Linked DNA regions of Homo sapiens. The protein of the gene in region 5 purifies or fractionates together with the protein of the main gene of each other region. This does not show direct contact. Each region holds a gene or a part of one and is shown on either strand. Other genes may lie near its edges.

Evidence for each region.
Region 1: the proteins of SLC22A10 (region 5) and CLPTM1 purify together in Homo sapiens (affinity purification with mass spectrometry; one large-scale study listed by BioGRID and IntAct). This does not show direct contact.
Region 2: the proteins of SLC22A10 (region 5) and TMEM59 purify together in Homo sapiens (affinity purification with mass spectrometry; one large-scale study listed by BioGRID and IntAct). This does not show direct contact.
Region 3: the proteins of SLC22A10 (region 5) and NGLY1 purify together in Homo sapiens (affinity purification with mass spectrometry; one large-scale study listed by BioGRID and IntAct). This does not show direct contact.
Region 4: the proteins of SLC22A10 (region 5) and DNAJC16 purify together in Homo sapiens (affinity purification with mass spectrometry; one large-scale study listed by BioGRID and IntAct). This does not show direct contact.
Region 6: the proteins of SLC22A10 (region 5) and UBAC2 purify together in Homo sapiens (affinity purification with mass spectrometry; one large-scale study listed by BioGRID and IntAct). This does not show direct contact.
Region 7: the proteins of SLC22A10 (region 5) and FADS2 purify together in Homo sapiens (affinity purification with mass spectrometry; one large-scale study listed by BioGRID and IntAct). This does not show direct contact.

The regions. Positions count from the first base shown.
Region 1 is NC_000019.10:44,989,880-44,993,379, reverse strand, and holds the end of CLPTM1 (putative lipid scramblase CLPTM1), read right to left. Parts: intron 2,986-3,500; coding exon 2,795-2,985; intron 2,531-2,794; coding exon 2,435-2,530; intron 2,143-2,434; coding exon 2,007-2,142; intron 1,148-2,006; coding exon 980-1,147; intron 770-979; coding exon 483-769; 3' UTR 39-482; downstream 1-38. UniProt on the Homo sapiens protein: Involved in GABAergic but not glutamatergic transmission. Binds and traps GABAA receptors in the endoplasmic reticulum (ER).
Region 2 is NC_000001.11:54,043,205-54,046,704, forward strand, and holds part of TMEM59 (transmembrane protein 59 isoform 2 precursor), read right to left. Parts: intron 2,583-3,500; coding exon 2,488-2,582; coding exon of another isoform or gene 2,440-2,487; exon of another isoform or gene 2,279-2,439; intron 322-2,278; coding exon 169-321; intron 1-168.
Region 3 is NC_000003.12:25,762,944-25,766,443, forward strand, and holds part of NGLY1 (peptide-N(4)-(N-acetyl-beta-glucosaminyl)asparagine amidase), read right to left. Parts: intron 1,369-3,500; coding exon 1,123-1,368; intron 1-1,122. UniProt on the Homo sapiens protein: Specifically deglycosylates the denatured form of N-linked glycoproteins in the cytoplasm and assists their proteasome-mediated degradation. Cleaves the beta-aspartyl-glucosamine (GlcNAc) of the glycan and the amide side chain of Asn, converting Asn to Asp.
Region 4 is NC_000001.11:15,557,848-15,561,347, reverse strand, and holds part of DNAJC16 (dnaJ homolog subfamily C member 16 isoform 1 precursor), read right to left. Parts: intron 1,823-3,500; coding exon 1,692-1,822; intron 1-1,691. UniProt on the Homo sapiens protein: Plays an important role in regulating the size of autophagosomes during the formation process.
Region 5 is NC_000011.10:63,306,903-63,309,592, reverse strand, and holds part of SLC22A10 (solute carrier family 22 member 10), read right to left. Parts: intron 1-2,690.
Region 6 is NC_000013.11:99,242,354-99,245,853, reverse strand, and holds part of UBAC2 (ubiquitin-associated domain-containing protein 2 isoform 1 precursor), read right to left. Parts: intron 2,023-3,500; coding exon 1,903-2,022; intron 1,340-1,902; coding exon 1,230-1,339; intron 1-1,229. UniProt on the Homo sapiens protein: Restricts trafficking of FAF2 from the endoplasmic reticulum to lipid droplets.
Region 7 is NC_000011.10:61,834,800-61,838,299, reverse strand, and holds part of FADS2 (acyl-CoA 6-desaturase), read right to left. Parts: intron 523-3,500; coding exon 412-522; intron 1-411. UniProt on the Homo sapiens protein: Involved in the biosynthesis of highly unsaturated fatty acids (HUFA) from the essential polyunsaturated fatty acids (PUFA) linoleic acid (LA) (18:2n-6) and alpha-linolenic acid (ALA) (18:3n-3) precursors, acting as a fatty acyl-coenzyme A (CoA) desaturase that introduces a cis double bond at carbon 6 of the fatty acyl chain.

The DNA.
Region 1 (3,500 bases), on a different chromosome or scaffold from region 5:
CAACAGAGGAAGGAAGGCACGAGGAGGAGGGGCAGTGCTGAGTTTAAGTTAAACACCCATATGAATTTATTAAATCCAGACTGTGTTAAAGGGCGGCGGTCTAGGAGGGGGAGTGTGGTAGGGGGACGAGGGACAAGATGATGAACGGCCGTGGGCATCCCGTAGGGGGGCCCGGCCCCACCCCCGCCCAACCCACCCCCTCGGCAACGCTGCATCAGCTTCACCATGATTCCCAGTGGTGCTGGGCTGGCAGGGCGAGATGGCTGGAAACACAGAGGGACAGAGGGACAGACAGCGCCTCCACAAACAAACCCTGGCCTGCCCCGGCCCCTACATCACACGCTGGGCCCTGACCTGAGGCGGGCCTCCCACCGCCCCGGCCTGATCTGTCCAGGGAAAGGGCGACAGGGAGGGGAGGCGAGGGGGCCGGGACGCAGGGGTAGTGGTCGCCAGGAGCCGGAGCAGGTGAGGACCAGTCTCGACTAATCCTTTTTCTTGTCCTCTGCTGGCTTTGGAGGGGCTTCCTGGGGCTCGCTGGCAGAGCTGGCCCCCTGGGTGGGCTTGGTGGGCAGGGACGTGGAGGCCTCCTCCCTGGTGGCGGTGGTCGTGGTGGGTGCAGGTGTGGGCGTGAGGGCCCCTGCTGCTGTGGGAACCTCGGCCACGGGGGCGGCAGCTGTGGGGTCTTCTCCACTCATGCCAAACTCGTTGACTCGGGTGGGGTCGACGCGGTAGATCCACCGTTGGTAGAGGTAGATGAAGAAAACCACATCTGGAGAGGGGTGGGAGGCAGTGTGAGGTCGGGCTGGCCCGTCCACAGCCAGGTGGGCCTGGGTGGAGAGGGCGTGATGCAAGGGCGGGGCCGAGCCCCCTCAGACTGAGCACCCCATCTGGGGCCGTGGCACCCCCTCAGGCCTGGGCCCTAAAGACTGCCTCAGGGCCCTGTTCCGGTGGGAGCTCCCACCTGCCCACCGGGCCTCACCGTCCCGCAGGCAGCCGATCCGGTACATAACGGGCATCTTGATGACAAAGGCGAACAGGTCGTCGATGAATGTGTTGAGGGCCTTGTAGGTGAGCATGCGCCAGGGAAGGTGGGCCACAGACTTGAGCTTGTAGTTGATGAAGAGCTGGGGCGTCATGGTGATGAAGCCTGCAGTGAGAGCACCCATGAGCAGAGGGATGGCCTCTCCCACCTCTCCCCTGTGCACTCTGCACTGGCCATACCAGCCCCCTCACCACTTCCTACACCTGGGCACACTCTACCACTTCCTATACCTGGGCACACTCTACCAGCGGCCTCTGCACTGGTGGGGCCTTCTGTCACATCCGCACAGCTCTCTCCCTGGATATCTGAGGCCTCTGTTTAAATGTCCTGTCCTCAGAGGGGCCCCCGGACCCCTATTAATGTGCATCCTCCCACCACTCTGCCCTTCACAGTACTCACTATTGGCTGTGATTCACCCGGTCTTTTGTTTTTTGAGACAGGGTCTCACTCTGTCACCCAGGCTGGAGTGCAGTGGCGTAATCATGGCTCACTGCAGCTTCAACCTCCTGGACTCAAGGGATCCTCCCACCTCAGCCTCCCAGGTAGCTGGGACTACAGGCACGCACCACCACTCCCCAATAATTTCTGTGTTTTTTTGTAGAGATCGGGTCTTGCCAAGTTGCCCAGGCTGGTCACGAATTCCTGGGCTCAAGTGATCCTCCTGCCTCAGCCTCCCAAAGCATTGGGATAACAGGTGTGAGCCACTGCACCTGGCCCTACTTGTTTACTTGTTCCCAAGACACAAAGGCCCCCTGAGAATGAGGACTGAAGCGTACTGTTCATGTCCTCCCTGAAGTCCTCTCTGACCCCAGATGGGGCCATGTGTGCCCTCGGGCCTCCCTATATCCCAGCTCTGCCCACCCTAGGTTGTCCCTGTCTGGGGATGGGTCTGTCTCCTACACTGGGGCTGTGAGCCCTGCGCAGCATGGGGCCTGCTCTCTCCTGGGGCGGCCGGACCGCTCACCGAAGGTCAGCAGGAAGCCGTAGAGCATGCTGAGCACCCAGGAGTACCAGCCCTTGTGCTCCAGGTACAGAAGACTGTAGACGGCATAGCAGCCCAGGAGCGGGAAGAGGATCCAGGACAGGTACCGGAATGCCATCTGTGGGGCCACAGGGTGGGGCTGTCAGCCAGCTCCTCAGCCCTGCCTGGCAGCCCTGCTCCCCGCCCTCACCCACCACACCTGGTCTGGCAGGCCGGGCAGGGGGAATTTCCAGGTAGCCCTGGGGACTCCGGACTCGCCCAGGGAAGCAGTTATGGCAGATGGGGGACACAGAGGATGTGGCACAGGCTGTAAAGCATGGGTCCGGCAGACAGATGGCCGGCCCCGGGTGCCTCAGGGATACGTGGTACCTGGAGACCACCCCCAGGGGCCCACTGTGCAGGACACTCACATCATCATACACTTTGGTCGAGGACTCGATATACGTGGACTTGTCCTTGAAGGATAGGCGGGGGAAGATTCCTGCCACCCTGTGCTCTCGGTCCAGCTGTGGATGAGGTGGGTGCCATGGTCAGTTGCTACGCTGGCTCCCACCCCACAAGCCAGAACCAGCCCCTGCCCTTCCCCACCGTTCCCAGTTCCCCTGCCCCATGTGTGACCCAAAAAATCCCCTGGTGAGAAAATCCCCTCAGTCCTGGGAGTGAGGCACTTGCTGGGAATCCCCCGGGGGCCAGCTCCAGGGTCCAGCTGGGCCACACTACCCCCTCCCAACCCCTGCAGCTCCCGAGACAGCATGGCGCCCCAGCCTTACCCGGACGTCCATGACCTTGGTGATCTTCCAGAGGTCGATGAGGACCCCAATGAAGACGCTGACCTGGACCACGAAGTTGGTCTCGTTGTCCAGGATGTAGAGGAGGACCACGAATGACTGGAAAACGCCGAAGAAGACGGAGCGCACGGACAGGCCCTCCAGGGACTGCCGGCTGTTCCAGAACTGGATATCTGTGCGCAGGGGGTAGGGGGGAACCAGGAGGCTGAGGAGGTGCTGAGACCCTACTGCAGCTCCCTCAGGCCCCCTTGGCCTGCATCCTCACACCCTGGGGTGGGGCTGGGTCCTCAGGAGGGGTGCTGAACGAGACCCCTCTCTCCCAGGAAGGCTCTCATATTCATTGGGTGACCCCCAGAGCACCAGACAGGCGGCACCCCTGGAGCCCTCCCATAGGACGTCAGCACCCAGCACCCCAAGGTGCAGTCCCTTGACTGATGGTGACGGTGACTGGTGCCATGGACAGGGCTCACCACGTGCCAGGTGCTAAGGACTGGTCAGGGAAGCTGCTTCCCTGAGGCCAAACAGCCTGGCATGGCAGAATCTGAAGGGACGCGGGGTCTGTGCCACACCATGGTGCCAGCTCGCCCTCCCTGGGAAGGAAGATCTGTGGCATGCACTTCAAGACCACCTCCTCCAGGCCCCTGCCCTGACACCGGGAAGGAACTGGCTCACAGCCATGCTCAGGAAA
Region 2 (3,500 bases), on a different chromosome or scaffold from region 5:
TAATAAAACTGATGTCTAATATTTTAATGTAGGGCCAAATAAGTAATTATTATTTGATGATAAATATTTGTAAGTGACTGAGTATGGTTCTATGCTGAAACACTCATTTAAGACATATACATTTACTGTTGTTAGTATTTAGATGAATCCATGAAGCTCAGTTGTCACCTGGAATATAACTATTTTTCCGTCATCGGCTTGAAGATAAAAAGTCCATGAAGAGGTTATGAAGCTCTGTGCGGAGTCCATCATGTCACTCCAGAATGACCTCACCAGAGTTAGAGGAAAGAGTAGGTGCATTTTTGGCATCAGGGACATAAGCTAAAAATAAAATAAATAATGAGAAATATATTATTTTTATATATGTATATTCAAAAGAACAATATAATCAAGATTACTCCAATCCTTATTGGGACAGGATACAAACAATTAAATACATCTACCATAATCAATAGCATTAGAGTAAACTCTTAGTTATCTATGCACATTATGGTAAAGCTTAAAAACCAAGGATACTTTAATTTGCCACCAAACACACTTACTAGCTACCTGTCACCTCTATCAGAATAACAGGCTTTTGAATTAAGTCCAAAAATAAGAAGACTCTTAAGATGTAATTAAATAAGGACCAGCAAGGCCTTAAGGGTAGAACGGGAAGGGACAAATCGTATCATTCTCATCTTTAATGCTTTCATCAAGAATAAATCATGCTATAATGAACATCAATGGAAAAGAGAACGGAAAAAATCAATCAGAAGAATATATACATAAAATGGTAGACATCTGACAACACGACAGGGTGAAGGGAGTATTTATGGGCTGAATATATGTAGTAAGCTACTGATAAGATTTTAATGGCCCAGCGTGGTGGCTCACACCGGTAATCCCAGCACTTTGGGAGGCTGAGGCGGGTGGATCACGAGGTCAAGAGATGGAGACCATCCTGGGCAACATGGTGAAACCCGATCTCTACTAAAAATACACAAAAATTAGCTAGGCGTGGTGGCGCACGCCTGTAGTCCCAGCTACTCAGGAGGCTGAGGCAGGAGAATCCCTTAAGCCAGGGAGGCAGAGGTTGCCGTGAGCCAAGATCATGCCACTGCACTCCAGCCTGGCGACAGAGCGAGACTCCATCACAAAAAAAAAAAAAAAAAAAGGATTTTGACAAATGATATCATCTTTCCTCCAATTCTGATTTCTTGACTTCTTTAGCAGCACTGGGCCTCTCTAAAGCACAAGTGTGGGATGCCATTTACTAAACTCTAGGGATAGCTTTGGTTCTGCTTTGTTTCTTTTTTCATCTGTTTTTTTTTTTTTTTTTTGAGACAGTGTCTCGCTCTGTCACCCAGGCTGGAGTGCAGTGGTATCTATGGTAGCACTTGGGCCCAGAAGCTTGAGGCCAGCCTGGGTAATATAGTGAGATCCTCATCTCTAAAAAACATAAAAATAAAAAATGCATATACCTCTTAACTCAGCAATTCTAGCCCTATGATTTTATTCTACAGGTATACTCACAAATGTGCAAAATAGGTATCATTTACAAAAGAAAAAGATTAGGAACAACCTACATGTTCACAAATAAGGGACTGCCTAAAAAATTATAATATATCTACACAGAATATTATGTAGTAGAAAAAAATTAGTAGAAGCTCTTTATGTATACTTATATTTACAAAATATATGTGTACATCCTTGTATACGCATAACATATCTATGCATTAGTAACCTTGGCTACATTCAAGAGGGAAAACTGAGTGGCTAAGAGACAGGAGTGGGAGACTTTTCACTATATGTATACTCTTTTTATCTTTTGAGTTTGTACATGTGACTATTTCCTGTGCAAAAATCAATAAAATTAAGAAACTTTTCCCAGTATGTCTGGAGAATAGAGTATGAAATTCCCTTGTCAGGAATTTTAAGAGATGGCATTGGAGCAGTAATCAGGAGTAGGTTGTGATAAACAGTTTGGACTTAAATCTATATGTAATTGGGAGCTACTGATTATATAAGACAGGAGAATGGCATGATGAAATTTAGAAAAAAAAATCTGGACACAGCAAAGGATGGAGTTAGACAGGGTTAAATTAGAAAAACAGTTTGGAAGTTAATTTAAAAATACAGACAAGAAATGATTATCTGAGTTAAGGCAATGGCAACTGTCCAATGGGAGTTGGGATGGAGAAAAAGAACTCTGAAATAATTCCTCTGAGCCTTGGTTTTTTCATATGTAAAATGAGGATAATATCTTCACTGGAATGTGAGAAGAAACAAAATAAGATTATGAACGTAAGCATAACTTTTAATAGTAAAGCATTATACAAAAGCAATTATTCAACTGACTTTTCTATTTGCAAACTAATTTTGTTTGCTGAAAGCCAAATATAAAATATAACACTAAAATAGGATCAAGTGGGTGATAAACACTTCAAGCAATACAAGTCAGTGCCATCTAAGCAGGCTAGTTTGAAAGGCAGTATTGTTTCGTACTTGTTCTTGTCTCAGTTCAGCGAATGGCAGCTGATTCTGGCAACCAAGATGGCAAGCATATTGCTCATCAGATTGGGAATATGCTTCTGTACATGCTGTAAGAGAAAAATAGTCAAATTACAAGAAACAAAAGAGAAAGGGAAAGAGGAAAGAAAAGGATTTGGCATTTTATTAAAAAAATTTTTATACTTAAAAAGGTTTCATCAATGTGAATTTCCAAATTTGGTAATATAGTAGTAGGAAATGTATCTTTAACAGAACTCCATATTGTCTCCCTCCTACAAGTCAAATGTTTTAGATACAAATCTATTAATTATACACCCAGGCTCTGGCCACATGATGACATTCATATAAGAGGATCCTTGTGTGGTGGAAAATGCACTGGATTGGCATCCTGAAGATGCCACTCAAAAAGGTTTAGTTCCATCATTTGTTGGTGTGTGTGACCTGAGCTGAGCAGTTTAACCTCTGACTATTGATTTCTATATGTGTAAAATAGAAATACCACAACCTATTGTATAGGGTTGAATGAAATAATATATTTTAATGATTTATACAAATATAAGGTATTATTGTTAAGAACCAGATCACTCAGTTAAGAAGTAAGGGTATGCACATGGCAAAAGAAAAATAAAACAATCAGCCTAACATCTGAAAGTCTAAGAAAATTGAACTAGAAAATGTTCTACAGCAGATAATTCTAATGTTGAAATGGGTCTCTACCAGATATACTCTCATTTAGTTCATTAAATCCATTTCCTTCTTGTGATATAACATTTTACCACTATCCTAATTTTATTTTTTCCCAACTCAGTAATGCATTTGTAATACACTTCTCAGAAGTGCTAGATAATAAACTGGACAGCATTATGCATATATAAAGATGATCAGTTAGGAGACTAAGCCGCAAAAATACGGTTATGATATCAAAGAAGACTGTATGTGAGCCATGGCATAGTGATAGGGGAAAAGGTGCCTCCTTCTACACTAATAAACAGTGTAACGAGTGGAGA
Region 3 (3,500 bases), on a different chromosome or scaffold from region 5:
AACTCCGTCTCAAAAAGAAGAAAAAACAAAAATTAGCCAGGAGAGATGGTGCATGCCTTTATTTCCAGAAACTCAGGAGGCTGAGGCACGAGAATCACTTCAACCTGGGAGGCAGAGGTTGCAGTGAGCCAAGATTTTGCCACTGTACTACAGCCTGGACAGAATGAGACTCTGTCTCAAAAAAAGAAAAAAACAAAACAAAAGAAAAGAAGTTTAAACAAGATTAAGAAAATGTGAATGGCTTTCCTGAGCCAGGACACTAACAAAATACTACTTAGCCCAGGAAAGAGATATTTTGTAAAATAAAATGTTTGCAAGCTTTTTTGCAGATTGGTTAACTATGTGCATTTTAAACTATAATACTGCAATTAAAAAGATAAAGTAGGAAATCTTAAAAGATATATTCTAACACTGTAATTGGAAAACTCCTAAGAAAAGGTGTTAAAAACCAAGAAAGATGTTAAGTGAGCTTCTGTAACTGTACCAACCTTAACTGCAAAACTGATGAAGACCTAAGGTATTCAAAATGGAATGCACATGATCTCAGGGAGGGGCATAAAAATCCATTGAGGTGCTTGTTAGACTTACAGAAATATCACAAGAATTTTTCTGACAGTAAAAACTTAGGAGAAGAATATGTAAGGACCTTGGTCAAAAGAGATTTTTGTAAACAGGATAATTTCCTATCAAATGGAATCATTTCAGTTTATCAAGAATGCCTGTAAGTTTGACTTTAGTTCTTCACAAGTATATATGGTGTATATTAATAATAAAATTTCACTAATTTGCTAGCATCCACTATCATTAAATTAATGCATTCTTAATTACCTTAAACCTAAAGAAGCTTTTTTATTGAATTAAGGTATTGATAATGGTTGTGCTGTTGGAAATAACCCCCACAGTGAAAGGCAGCAGGTACAATTTAGATCAGAAGTATTAATGCAGTAGAGGAAATCTGACAATTTTTTAAAGAGCTGAAGAAATTTGGATGTTTTAGAGTTATAAGAACTAAGAACAAAATATGGGGCATAAATTCAGGAATAAATCATAACACATTCCAAAGCTTTTGCTGTTTCAACACTTTGAAAGAAACAGTTAAAGAAGGTTTAATTCTAACATTACCGTTGAAGCAGATGGTGGATCTGATGACTGCCCTTGACGGTTCCTTGTGTGCTGGTTTAACCCACTGGGATTTGAAGATGGTGTTGTAGGAAGCTGGGTACTGGCTGCAGGTTGCTGAGATGACTTTACTTTGTGGCTCTTATTTGAGCCATCCAGTCTGCTACTTCTCTCTATGGCAATCAGGTCACGAATTTTTTGCAGCTGCTCCACTGAAGCTTTTTTAGGAAAGATGAGATGTGTTTCTCCCTGGAATTTATAAAATTAAAAAAAATGTGAACCTTTGCTTTATGCAGTCATTCTTTTGTGCACACACACACAGAAATGTATAATGAAACCAATAATATAGAATGCATGTTTCTAAAATCATACTGTTTTCTTACCATTATGGTTCTTTTTAAATACAGCCTAAGGTAAATAATGCCTAAACATAAACCAGAAAATTAAAAAAAAAATTATCTCCTTTTTGGCATTTAATCCTTAGCCTATTTAATGTGGTTCAAAGGACTTTCAGGAAAAAATATTTGATCTTCTAGAAACAATAAGTCAGAAGGCCTCATAAGGGTTGCAAAAATGCATATTCCTATCCTCTCTGCAATAGTATATGATACTACTATTCTCTATGAAATTCCCTATGAAATAATAATGACAGTAGAGATACAGCCACACAAAAGAATCCAGGGTCACATAAAACCAACAAGAAGTTATCTAACAACCTTTGAATCTTGTTAATCTGAGTCTTTAAAGAATAGCTACATGATTAGAAGCCTGTGTATGGGGTCAACTAATTTTTCCACGATAACGAAAAGTACACCCTGATAGTCAATCCAAAACTATGGATGGTTAACAGTAATAGGAAGGTAATCCGAACAAAACAAAAGAAATAAAAATCATGTATTTCAGTAGTGACTCATTTAAAGAATACCTATAAATATGCTAAGAATGCTTTAAAATAAAATGCTACAACAAATTCTATAATGTAAAACAGTAAATTACTCAAAACAAGAAAAAAGGTGAAATGAAATGACAATGTATTTGATCAAATTTCCAGGTATTGAAAAGAAACAATGTTAAAAACAGTAATTTCTCCAACTGCAAACAAGATAAAAAGTTGCAGCTGGGCATGGTGGCTCACGCCTGTAATCCCAGCACTTTGGGAGGCTCACATGGGCAGATTACCTGAGGTCAGGGGTTCGAGACCAGCCTGGTCAACATGGCAAAACCCTGTCTCTACCAAAAATACAAAAATAAGCTGGGCATGGTGGCGGGTGCCTGTAATCCCAGCTACTTGGGAGGCTGAGGCAGGAGAATTGCTTGAACCTGGGAGGCAGAGGTGAGCTGAGATCGTGCCACTGCACTCCAGCCTAGGTGACAGAGCAGGACTCAGTCTCAAAAAAAAAAAAAAAAAAAAGTTGCAACAGTCTGTAGTACACAGACCTGCAGATCATGAGCATTTAAATTAAACTCCAAAATCGACAATATTACTGTATTTCCCTGGTGATGGCAGACCTACAGGAATCAACTGAACAAGACATTACTCAATGACATGAAAGTCAATTCCATCTGAATCCTTTTTAAAAAGCTGGATTAGACCAGCAAGCTCCACGTATGATTCATAATTGCTATAAAAAAGACAACTACAATGTATTGTCTTTGTGTGTTCTAAGTACTGTGCTAGGCATTTTTTTCTCTGAGGCAGGGTCTCCCTCTGTCACCCAGGCTGGAGTGCAGTGGAGTGATCAAAGCTATAACCTCAAACTCTTGGGCTCAAGCGATCTTCCATCCTCAGCCTCCCAGCAGCTAGGACTACAGGTGCATGCCACCACACCTGGATGATTTTTATTTTTTGGAGAGACAGGGGTCTCACTCTTTTGCCCAGGCTGGTCTCAAACTCCTAACCTCAAATGATCCTCCCACCTCAGCCTCCCAAAGCAAAATGCTGGGCGTTTTAAATACATCATCTCAAGTAATACAACTACCCTGAAAAGTAGGTATTAGATTAATACTTTTTTTTTTTTTGGAGACAGAGTTTTGCTCTTGTTGCCCAGTCTGGAGTGCAGTGGTGTGATCTCGGCTCACTGCAACCTCCACCTCCCAGGTTCAAGCAATTCTCCTGCCTCAGTCTCCCAAGTAGCTGGGATTACAGGCATGCGCCACCACACCTGGGTAATTTTTGTATTTTTTAGTAGAGACAGGATTTCACCACGTTGGTCAGGCTGGTCTCAAACTCCTGACTTCAGGTGATCCGCCCACCACAGCCTCCCAAAAAGCTGGGATTATAGGCGTGAGCCACCATTCCCGGCCAATACTCACATGAAAATACAAAGGCTCAGGGAAGTTAACCTGCTTGAAGCCACAGAACAACTGGCAGAGCAGGGATT
Region 4 (3,500 bases), on a different chromosome or scaffold from region 5:
TCAAATCTCTCTCAGGCCAGAGGCCACTGAGCCTCATTCTGAACGGCTTCCTTTGCAAGGTTCCAATGGAAAGTTTAGCTATTCATTCTCCCAAAAATATTTACTGAGCACTTAGTATATGTCAGGTAATATAGACAATATTATTGCCCTCATGGAGCTTATATTCCAGTGGGGAAGACAGAAAACAGATATATTATGACAGGTATCAACAAGTGCTATATATTAAAAAAAAAAAAAAAGATGAAAAGGGGACAGAGAGAGGCCAGAGTGGGTAGAAGCCAGGCTCCATCAGACAGGTTGGTCAGGGAAGTGCCAACTGAAAAGGTGACATTGTTATGACAGGAAATGGGGTCAGAGCATCCCAGGTAGAGAGACTACAAGTGCAAAGACCCCAGGATGGGGAGTGACTGGATCTGATTTGCATTTTCAAACATTATTGGCTGACGTGTGGACATCTGCCTGGAGGGTACAAGAGTGGAATGGAGCAGAGAGACTAGTTAGAAGGCTGCCAGGGGGGTCTCGCTGGGAGACGATGGTGGCTTGTTCCAGGGTGGCAGTGGTTAAAAAAAGTGAGAAGTGTGTGGATTTGGGATATTTTTTGAAGGCTGTGTAAACAACAATCCTTACAGTCCAGGATATTCTTTTTTTATATTTAAGTCATTTTTTTCTTCGCTCTTAAGACTATAAAGGAATCTGAAAAGCCTAGACACACAGGGAAATTATGTTTTATATTTTCAAGTTACATGATTGATATGTTTTCCTTCCATATCCAGATACCTTTTACAGATGAAACAGCCCTAAATTTAAAGCTACTGATTCATTCACCTGAGAAGGTGTAATGAATACATTCCCTGAATTTCTAGACTTTTTAGATACTTTGTATAATAACTCTTCCTACTTTATTGAATACATGTAACTTAGCCTTCCCGATTCCCACCAATCCATTTCCTCAATACTCTGTACTTCCCTACTGTTTAATTGTTATCCTTGCTCCTTCCCAAGACCTCCAAAGACTCACCCTGTGTGGAATGCTTTAGTAGGGACAGTCACTCTTCCATATTCTGTGCTTCTGTAAAGTGACCCAGTCTATCCCAGACGCCTGGCTAAACTGTGCTCATCCTTCAGGTCTCAGCTGAAATGTTACATCTTAGGGAAATCTTCTCTGACCACTAGGACAGGCTGGCACATCTGACAATTTGGTGCTAAAGTGCCCTGGACTAATACATCATATTAGTATGATTACCATCACAGTCACTAATCAGTGTTTTTTTTTTTTTTTTTTTTGAGACAGAGTTTCACTCTTGTTGCCCAGGCTGGAGTGCAATGGCATGATCTCGGCTCACCGCAACCTCTGCCTCCCAGGTTCAAGTGATTCTCCTGCCTCAGCCTCCCTAGTAGCTGGGATTACAGGCATAAGCCACCATGCCCGGCTAATTTTGTATTTTTAGTAGAGATGGGGTTTCTCCATGTTGGTCAGGCTGGTCTTGAACTCCGGACCTCAGATGATCCGCCCTCCTCGGCCTCCCAAAGTGCTGGGATTACAGGCATGAGCCACCATGCCCGGCCCAGTATTTGTTAAATGAAGAATAAGTTCTCAATGTTACAGGGCAGATGTCTAGTCACCCTATAGTAAAATGAATCATGATCCTTCTATTGTAATAACAAGCAGAGGCAAAGCCTTAAGTCCTTACTTCCTCTGTCGATGCGACCGTTTCACAGGGCAGAGTTCATGGAACAACTTCTGGCTGGTGAGCCTGGCTGCCAATAGATATTTGTTTCGGGTGATGAAGTCGTCAATGATTTGCTTCTTCATACCTCGGGCCTAGAGAAAAACCAAGAATCAGCTAGATTTTATGCAGTGTTCTCAATGCAAATAGATGGGCTTTCTTTACTTACCAGCTTAATAAAAACGTAGCTGACCTTGGCTAAAGTAATATAACCAAACAAGACAGACCTGTTTGAGCGAATAAACATGTGGTGATCTATTTCAGCAATGCAGGGCTGAAAGCAATGATGCAGCTATTTCGGGTCAAAGGGAAAATCAAGTACACTTTCCACTGGAGAATTTTTATTCACTGTTTTATGCTGACAAATTAAAAAAGTCAGTCATGGCCGGACGTGGTGGCTCACATCTGAAATCCTAGAACTTTGGGAGGCTGAGGTGGGTAGATCACGAGGTCAGGAGTTTGAGACCAGCCTGGCCAACATAGTGAAACCCCGTCTCTGCTAAAAATACAGAAATTAGCCAGGCATGGTGACGTGTGTCTGTAGTCCCAGCTACTTGGAAGGCTGAGGCAAGAGAATCAGTTGAACCTGGGAGACGGAGGTTGCAGTGAGCCGAGATCACGCCACTGCACTTTAGCCTGGGCGACAGAGCGAGACTCCATCTCAAAAACAAAACAAAACCAAACACAAAACAAAACAAAAACCCAAAACGAAAAGTCAATCATTTTGAATTTTAGGCAAAATTATTTCCATTCAGGATTTGTAGCGAACTGGGCAATTAAAAATAAATCCCAAAGCAACAATGTTGCAAAGTATAAAAGGCAGGTTACAAAACCGTGTGACCATTTTATTGCTAACTTTCACACATTTCAAAGGATTGAAATCATTGACAGCAGGTATTCTGACCACAAGGTAATTAACCTAGAATTCCATTTAAAATGCAAACCAGAAATGTAAACATTTCCCTTTATGTTTGGAAATTAAGAAACACGGCCAGGTATGGAGGCTCATTCCTCTAACCCAAATGCTTTGGGAGGCCAAGGCAAGAGGATCCCTTGAACCCAAGAGTTAGAGACCAGCCTGTGCAACATGGAGAGATCCCATCTCTACAAAAAATTAAAAACAAACAAACAAAAGGCCAGGCACAGTGGCTCACTCCTATAATCCCCGAACTTTGGGAGGCCGAAGCAGGAGGATTGCTTGAGCTTAGAAGATCGAGACCAGCCTGGGCAACATAATGAGATCTTGTCTCTACTAAAAATAAAAAAACATTAGCCAGGCATGATGGTGGTGCATGCCTGCAATCCCAGCTACCTGGGAGGTGGAGGTGGGAGGACTGCTTGAGCCCAAGACTTAAGAGACTGCAGTGAGCTAGGATCACACCACTGGACTCTAGCCTGTGTGACAGACTGAGACCCTGTCTCAAGAAAAAAAAAAAAAAAAAAAAAAAAGGGCTGGGTATGGTGGCTCATGCCTGTAATCCCAGCACTTTGGGAAGTCAAGGCAGGTGGATCACTTGAGGTCAGGAGTTCAAGACCAGCCTGTGCAACATAGTGAAACCCTGTCTCTACTAAAAGTACAAAAATTAGCCAGGCGTGGCCTTAGTCCCAGCTACTCAGGAGGCTGAGGCAGGAGGACTGCTTGAGGCTGGGAGAGCATACCAGCCTGGGCAACGGGAGTGAAACCCTGTCTCATAAAAGAAAAAAAAGGAAAAAAAAAGTTGTTAGCTGGGCATGGTGGCATGTGCCTGTAGTCCCAGCTACTTGGGAGGTTGA
Region 5 (2,690 bases):
AGAGGTGTCTGGAATAGATTCTTCCCTACAGACTTCAGTGAGGTCAAGTCCTTTTCAATAAATTGATCTCAGACTTCTAGCTTCCAGAACTGTGAGACAATAAATTTCTTTTCTTAAGTGCCTAAGTTTGTGATATCTTGTTATGAAAGACATAAGAAGTGAATATGCTATTTTTATTATTTTAACATTATTTCTTGTCACCAATCAAATTAAACCCAAACAAGAATATCCCAAGAAAAATTATAATAAACTCTCAAAGAGCAGACAAATAGAGCGTCCTGAAAGCACCAAGAAAAAAAGAAGCAAATAATATATAAGGGAGATCCAATATGCCTGGAAGCAGACTTGTAGCTGAAAATGTGCAGGCCAGAAAGGATTGAGATGATATATGCAGAATGCTGAAGGAAAAAAAAAAAGACTGCTGTCCAAGAATACTCTACCCAGAAAAGCTATATTTCAGAAATGAGTTGAGATAAAAAGACTTTCCCAGGCAAAAAAAAAAAATGCTGAGGGAATTCATCACTATCTCCTACAAGAAATGCTAAATGGAGTTTTTTGAACTTAAAGAAAAGGGCATTAATGTGATTGTTACTCTAGTACTGTAATTGTGGCATGTAAACCACTTACTTATATCTTTAGTATGAAAACTAAAAAAAACCTATCAAAAATAATAACTACAATAATTTGTTAAGAGGTGGGCAAAATAAAAGTGTAAATCATGACAAAAATCAAAACGTGGAAGGAGAGTTGAATTGTACCAGATTATTCTGTTTCTTCTCTTTTCTTTGTGATCAGTGTCAAGTTGCTATCATTTAAAATAACTTGTTATAATTATATAATTTTGTATAAGCCTTGTGGTAACTGCAAAGCAAAAACCTATAATAGATATGCTAAAATTAAAACACAAAGAATCAAAATATACTACTAGAGAAAACCACAAATAAAAACTGTAAAAGTGAAAGCAGGGGAAAAAAATGTACAAAACAAGTAGAAAATCGGTAACAAAATGGCAGTGTTAAGCCCTTACCTATTAATAATTACCTTGAATGTAAATGGACTAAATTCTGCAATTAAAGACGTAGAATGATTGAATGGATTTTTTTTAACTTAATTATATGCTGCCTATAAGAGACTCATTTCAACTATAAGGACACACGTAGACTTGAATTGAACAAAAGGAAAAAGTATTTCATGCAAATGAAAACTAAAAAAGACTAGGAGTAGCTATGCTTATATCAGATAAAATAAACATTATGGTCTTGTTTCTTTTTGCAGTTTTTTTTTTTTTTTGCCAGAAACTGCAAAAAGAGATAAGACCATATATAATACTTAAGGGGTCAATACAGCAATAGGATAAAACAATTATAAATATATATGCCCCAACATCAGAGCACCTAAATATATGGAGCAAATATTAATAGACCTAAATGGAGTGATAGTCTGCATAAAATAATAATAGGAGACTTTCAGCAATGGACAGATCATCCAGATAGAAAATCAACAAAGAAATATTAAAATTAAATCACATCCTAGATCCAACATTTACAGAACATTTCATCCAACAGCTACACAAGACAAATTCTTCTCAGAAGCACACAGAACATTTTTCAGGTTAAATCCTATGTTAGGCCACAAAACAAAACTCAACAATTTTTTTTAAAATCAAAATAATTTCAAATATCTTTTCTGATCACAATGCAATAGAACTAGAAATTAGTAACAGAAAGAAAGAACTTTGGAAAACTTACAAATACATGGAAATTAAACAACATGCTCCTAAACAGTCATTGGGTGAATGAAGAAATAAAAACAAAATTTAAAAATTTCCTGAGACAAAAGAAAATGGAAACACAACATACCAAAACCTATGGGATACAGCAAAAGCCATTCTAAGAGGGAAGTTTATAGCATTAAATATCTACATCAAAAAAATTTAAAGATCTCAAATAAACAACCTGATATTAAACCTAAAGGAACTAGAAAAACAAAAACAAACTAAAACCAAAATTAGTAGAAGGAAATAATAAATATCAGAGCAAAAATAAATAAAAAAGACAAAAATACAAAAGATTAGGAAAATTTGTTTGTTTTTTGAAAAGACAAACAACATCAACAAGCCTTAGCCAGACTAAGAAAAAAGAGAGATGACTCAAATAAAATTAGAGATGGCAGAGGAGACATCACCACTGATATCACAAAAAGGATCCTTAGAGACTGTTATGAACAAATACAAACCAAAAAATTAAAAAACAGAAAAAAAAAACAAACAGAAAAATCCCTAGACACATACAAACCTACTAAGACTGAATCATGGAGAAGTAGAAAACCTCAACAGGCCAATAAAAAGATAAGGAAATTGAATCAATAATAAAAAGTCTCCCATTAAAGAAAAGCCCAGGACTTGATGCCTTCACAGGTGAATTCTACTAAACATTTAAAGAAGGAATTCTAAAATAGCAAAAATATACAAATGGAATTATATCAAACTAAAGAGGCTTTATGCCGCAAAGAAAACAATCAATGAAGTGAAGAGACAGCCTGCAGAGTGAAATAAAATATTCACAAACTACGCGTCTAACAAGGGACTAATAACTAAAACACAAGAGGAGCTCAAGAGTAAAAAACAAAGTGTGATTTGAAAATGGGCAAAAGATCTGAATAGACATTTCATAAAAGAAGACACATGAATG
Region 6 (3,500 bases), on a different chromosome or scaffold from region 5:
GGTATTTTGTTTGTTTTTTGAGGCGGAGTCTCACTCTGTCACCCAGGCTGAAGTGCAGTGGAGCGATCTCCGCTCACTGCAACCTCTGCCTCCCGGGTTCAAGTGATTCTTCTGCCTCAGCCTCCTGAGCAGCTGGGACTACGTGCCACCACGCCCAACTAATTTTTGTATTTCTAGTAGAGATGGGGTTTCACCATATTGACCAGGCTGGTCTTGAACTCCTGACCTCGTGATCCGCCCACCTCGGCCTCCCAAAGGTGGCATGAGCCACCGCGCCCGGCCTGTTTTTTTGTTTGTTTGTTTGAGATGGAGTCTCGTTCTGTCAACTCTACTCCTAGATTCTAGTTATTTCACACACTAATACATGGTTTTTGTTTTTTTTAAAGAAGATCAACGCAATATGAAAGCATACAAATTCTGAGTGGGGTTGGCCACGGCAGGTTGTCTACAAAGTTATAACCTATACACCGGCTTTGTTTTATGTTTGATGGAAGTGTTTAAACATTATCAGCTTTTAAAAAATTATTCTTCAGAAGCTTAACTTCGTACAAATTAATTTTGTTTCCTAATCTAATTAAACTATATTTTTGTGTTTAGTTCATAAAATTACAAAGACAAATTTCACTATAAAAACACACAAAACTAATTCTATCAGGATCAGAATAGGAAATTCACTTAAAATTCTCTAAAACACAAACTTTCAAAGCTAAAAAAAGAAGGTGCCTGGGCAAGGTGGCTCACACAGTGGCTCAAGCACTTTGGGAGGCCGAGGCGGGTGGATCACCTGAGGTCAGGAGTTCAAGACCAGCCTGGCCAACATGGTGAAACCCTGTCTCTACTAAAAAATACAAAAATTAGCCAGGCATGGTGGCACGTGCCTGTAGTCCCAGCTACTTGGGAGGCTGAGGCAGGAGAATCGCTTGAACCCGGGAGGCGGAGGTTGTAGTGAGCCGAGATCGTGCCAATGCACTCCAGCCTGGGTGACAGAGCGAGACTCCGTCTCAAAAAAAAAAAAAGTAAAATAAATTTTAAAGAAAGAATATAAAATTGATTCTATTTCAAGAACATAATAAAAATGTAGGCATAGATTAGACTTTTTACATATAAAATCAATTTAACTATATCTAGAAGTTTAAAATATTATTTTACTGACTTTCACATAATAATAATAACACTTTAAATCAGATTCAAGTAGTTCTAAATTAAGTCAATCTTTAAGTGCTACTTACAATCCAGAAGGCAAATTACTAGCTGCAGTGATGCCAAAGAAATACTGCATAGCTTCAATGAGGAGAAAGTCAAATAAGGCTGACAAAACCCAGGAACCCAGCAAAAAGGACTACAAAATAAAACAGCAGAAAAATGATAGAGATGAGTCTCCTAAAAATAAACTAACATTTATTCAGCTAGAATCAGCTCAGAGGTGTGTATTCATATGTATGTGTGTGTGTGTATATACACACATGCATATGTGTGTATATATATTTGAAATTATTTGTTTTTATTAAAATAGACTTTAGAAAATGGGCGGGGTAAACCCATATTGCTCAAATGTATTAACAGCCATAATTTTTAAGTATGTTGAAGATATATTTTTAACAAGTAAAACACAAACCACTAAGCAAAATAAATTATAATTTTATTAAAGTCAAAGTATTAAAATTTGTATTAGTGTTCACAACTAATACTACATATTATCATTATCACTATTATTATTATGCTAATGTCTTACATTTTAAAATTTTCTTTGGTTAATGTCCATGTGCCTCAAATCAGATACAGAATAGTGTAATTAAAAAGATAACTGTAAATAACAACACCAAGTTTAACAAAATAAAATCCATTTAAACAAAATTTTTTTCTACAGCCTAAGTAGCAAAGACAAAATACATAAAAACTTACTGCAAATTTTCTGCTTCCATATCTTCTTTCAAATATCCTAAAATTATAAATAAGCAGACTACTGCAGAAAGTATCTTTCAAATCAAGGCAAATTATTCTTCCACATATCAACCTCCAAATCTAGATGGGGATTTAAAAAAGAACAATAAACAAGAGTAAAATTTGTTCGGGTCTCTTCCTTAGCAAATTTGTTATGTTTACACTGCCTATTTTTAATGTCCTAAACAAAATCATAATGCACACACCAAAGGAAAACTATATATGTATGTTCTCTGAGCTCAAGTCTCTCATAGTAAAAATTCCTCCCAACAGTGGCACGAAAGGTACTTGAATTTTTTTGTGCTTATAAGAAAACATATTCTCATTAAGATAACAGAAAACTGCCTATAAGAAATTTCAGGATCACGTTTAGTAAGATTTTTTAAAATTATATACGTAAACTAGAATGAAAGGCTAACAAATGTTCATTTTTATGTTATTGAATAAGACAAAGTTGTAACTGAAAAACAACTTAGGTATAAACTCAAAAATATGCATTTCTGAGCTTAATTTTAATCATCAACTTACTTCATAGCAACTATGCAAAGTAATTTATGGCAACTGCTGCTAAATATGACTAGGTTTGAAATATTAGTTTATTTAAATCATTGTTTCACCCAACTTCTGGCTGCATAAAAAACATATAAGGGGACATACAAAAAAAAAAAAAAAAAAAAAAGAGCTACTCAAAGGCCTATTTTTGAGTCTGCTTAAACATTTTTCAGATTTTTAAAGATAATCCCAATGACATCTCAAACATCCTAATCTTATTTCCCCTTCACAATGACCTTATGAGATAGGTAAAACAAATATTAATTCCAACTTTTCTTTGTATTTTTATTGTGGTAAAACAGATATAAAAGTTAAAATTTTGCTGGCTGCCCAGTCTGGAAAGTGAGGAGCGTCTCTGCCCGGCCGCCATCCCATCTAGGAAGTGAGGAGCGCCTCTTCCCGGCCGCCATCCCATCTAGGAAGTGAGGAGCGTCTCTACCCGGCCGCCCATCGTCTGAGATGTGGGGAGCACCTCTGCCCCGCCGCCCCGTCTGGGAGGTGAGGAGCGTCTCTGCCCGGCCGCCCCGTCTGAGAAGTGAGGAGCCCCTCCGCCCGGCAGCCACCCCGTCTGGGAAGTGAGGAGCGTCTCCGCCCGGCAGCCACCCCGTCCGGGAGAGAGGTGGGGGTCAGCCCCGGCCAGGCCAGCCGCCCCGTCGGGGAGGGAGGTGGGGGGGGTCAGCCCCCCGCCCGGCCAGCCGCCCCGTCCGGGAGGGAGGTGGGGGGGTCAGCCCCCCGCCTGGCCAGCCACCCCGTCTGGGAGGTGAGGGGCGCCTCTGCCCGGCCGCCCCTACTGGGAAGTGAGGAGCCCCTCTGCCCGGACAGCCGCCCCGTCCGGGAGGGAGGTGGGGGGGGCAGCCCCCCGCCCGGCCAGCCGCCCCGTCGGGGAGGGAGGTGGGGGGGTCAGCCCCCCGCCCGGCCAGCCGCCCCGTCTGGGAGGTGAGGGGCGCCTCTGCCCGGCCGCCCCTACTGGGAAGTGAGGAGCCCCTCTGCCCGGACAGCCGCCCCGT
Region 7 (3,500 bases), 1.5 Mb from region 5:
TCTGACCTGCAGACAATGAACAGATGACCAGGGAATGGTCATTCTTTCTCAAAGAGGTGCCCCGGACCACACACCCCAAAGCCACTCTTGTCATCAAATGACATTTTTCGGTGTTTCTGTCCTGTCTTTCCCCTAGATTGTCATCTGGCACCTTCCTGGAAAGGGATGGAGGAGAAGGAAAATGAAACTGGCCAGGAGAGAGGAGACGCCACTAGTTGTTGTCAAACCCCGGCTCCCAGGGAGGCTCTGAGGCCCTCCCTGAACACAGGTGAACCACAGTGGCTCCTCCAGGACAAAAGCACCCCTGCCTCAGCCCCAGTTACTGGTCATGGGGCAAGGGGAGCCTCTCTCAGACTCCCAGCCACCCCCAGCCTCGTCTCCACCCCCACCCAGGTTGCAAGCCAGACTTACGTTCTTGCCGTGGTCCTGGCTGGGCTCCTCCGGGGCCAGTTCACCAATCAGCAGGGGTTTCAAGAACTTGCCCACGAATTCCAGGTCAGGGTGGAAGGCGCGGAAGGCATCCTGGAGAGCAGAGGGCAGTGATGAGGCTAAGACCTGAACTCTGTCTGCTCTTGGGCCCCAAGGAGGACAGTGCTCACCAGCAACAGCTCCATGTGTGCACCCAGACACCAAACGGGGTCTCCTGTGATCTGGCCCCAAATGCCGTCTCCAGCATTTTTCCAGGACAGAGCCCTCAGTGCCCAACGCCAATGGCAACAGCCACCTGGGCTTCTGTGCTGGTGCAGGCATGCTACACTCCCCAGGGGTTTGTGAATAGATGCATAGGCTGCCTTTGGGCAGGTCGGGAAATGGTGACCCTCCAGGAAGGCGCACCAGGCAGACACGGGGCTCAGGGAGGACTTGAGCCTCGACTGCTCGTGAGCTGAGTGCCTTGCATGGTGCACAAACCACACCACCCACCATCTCTTACTAGTTCCTCACCTACATGTCCAGGGTGGTCAATGAAAAGGACAAGACCGAATACTACCTTGGCACTGGAAATGTGCTGTGATGAAGTAAATAAAAAAATAAACACAGAATTATGTAAAAAGCGTTCCTGAAAAAAAGCCTAGGAGGATCTAGGCTATTATTGCACATGTTAAGGTAGCTGGATTATGCCTTGCTTTATTTTCATTACTTTCCAAACTCTAACACTGCTATAATGATACACATTTTAATCTTTTTTTCCCAATTATAAAGTAAAAACGTGCTGAGTTTTGGCCAAGTTAGAAAAGGCACAGCAGAATAAAGAGGAAAATAAATATCACCCAGAAAGTGGTCATTATTGCTAATATTTTAGCATTTTTCCTTCCAGCTTTTTTCTATACATATTATGCATATTACATGAATTATCTCATAAAAAATCTAGTATTTCTATTAGAGATGAGCCAGCACCAGGCTCCCCTGAGGGGATGCAATAGAATGTCCCAGTGGTGAACACTGTGTAATCTGCATCAAATCAAGCTTCCAGACATTGGTAGGATTGGCAAACCAGTCAAACTCCACCATGAGAAACAATCAGAAAAATCAATATAGCTGGGGAAAAACATACAAGTTTGTGGAAAAAACAAAAGTACGGAAGCATGGTCTAGATTAAAAGAGACTAAAATGATATAAAAACTGCAACTCTTGACTGGTCGCAGGGGCTCATGCCTGTAATCCCAGCACTTTGGGAGGCAGAGGCAGGAGGATCACTTGAGGCCAGGAGTTCAAGACCAGCCTGAGTAACATAGCAAGACCCCTGTCTCTACTAAGAATAAACAAAATTAGCCAGGCATGGTGGCCTGCACCAATAACTCCAGTTACTCGGGAGGCTGAGGCAGGAAGATACAATAAGCAATGATGGTGCCACTGCACTCCAGCCTGGGCAAGAGAGTGAGACCCTGTCTCAAAAAACAAACAGGCCGGGCACAGTGGCTCATGCCTGTAATCCCAGCACTTTGGGAAGCCGAGGCAGGGCGATCACCTGAAGTTAGGAGTTTGAGATCGGCCTGGGCAACATGGTGAAATCCCACCTCTACTGAAAATACAAAAATTAGCCAGGTGTAGCGGCGCACGCCTGTAATCCCAGCTGCTCAGGAGGCTGAGGCATGAGAATCCTTTGAAACCAGGAGGTGGAGGTTGCAGTGAGCCAAGATTGCACCACTGCACTCCAGCCTGGGCGACAGAGTGAGACTTTGACTCAAAAAACAAACAAACAAACAAACAAAACAACATCCTGCAATTCTTTAATGTGACAGGCTCTCACTTGAAGGAAAAAAGAAGTTATACCAGGTTTTTCGGGAGTTGAATGAGAAAAAATGAATATGGACCAGATATTTGATCATATCAAGGAATTACTATTAATTTTCTTAAATGTGACAAAGGTACTGTGATGATGTTAGAGCATCTCTTCCTTTTTTCTCCGGAAATGTTGAAGACCTTAGGGATGTGATCACACAATGACGCAGCTTATTTTCAAAAGGCAACTGCACACATATAAAGAGGAAAAACGCAAATGTGGCAAAATGTTAAGACTAGTGAATCTTGGTTGAGGATACACAGGTGTTTGCTTGTTCCTTCAACATTTAAGGATGTTGGGAAAATTTCAAAATTAAAAAGAAGAGGGGGCCGGGTGCGGTAATCCCAGCACTTTGGGAGGCCGAGGCGGCGGATTGCCTGAGGCCAGAAGTTTGAGATCAGACTGGCCAACATGGTGAAACCCCGTCTCTACTAAAAATACAAAAAAAAAAAAAAAAATTAGCCAGGTGTGGTGGCACACGCCCGTAATCCCAGCTACTTGGGAGGTTGAGGCAGGGAATTGCTTTAGCCAGGGAGGTGGAAGGTTGCAGTGAGCTGAGATCGTGCCACTGCATTCCAGCCTGGCGACAGAGCGAGACTCCATCTCAAAAAAAAAAAAAAAGGGTCGGGGGAAGGTGGAGAAAGTGCTAACCACTCCTGGAAATCTTTTCAGCCCCACACGTAAGGATCTCCCAAGGGTAACTGCCAGTCTCCCATCATCTCCTTACTGCATTGCTGGCATCAAGTCCTTTGCTTGGTCTTTGTTCTATTTGTGTCTAGAACAGACTGACAAAGCAACACTTCGTGCAGGAGAAAACTGGGCCCACGGTTTCTTAAAAAATGCCTGTGACCCACTAGCCGAGCCGAAAAGGGATGGTAGCAGAGGATCAGGTCAAGAGTATTTTCAGGGAAAAGAGACGTGCTATTCCAGGGCCCTGGGGAGGCAGGGAGAAGTCCCTGGGGAGGCAGGGAGAAGTCCCTGGGGAGGCAGGGAGGAGGCCCTGGGGGCAGGCAGGGAGGAGGGCTGGGGTGGGGGGGCAGGCAGGGAGGAGGCCCAGGGTGCGGGCAGGGAGGAGCCCAGGGTTGCAGTGGTGACCAGCTTTGCTGGCTCTGGGTGGGGTGATCAGTCCCCACCAGAGCCTCAGCCGCCTATGCAAAATGAGCAAGGCCCTGGGAGAGGCCCGGAGGAGCTGCCAAAGTCAGGGCCCAGGGCTGGGCCT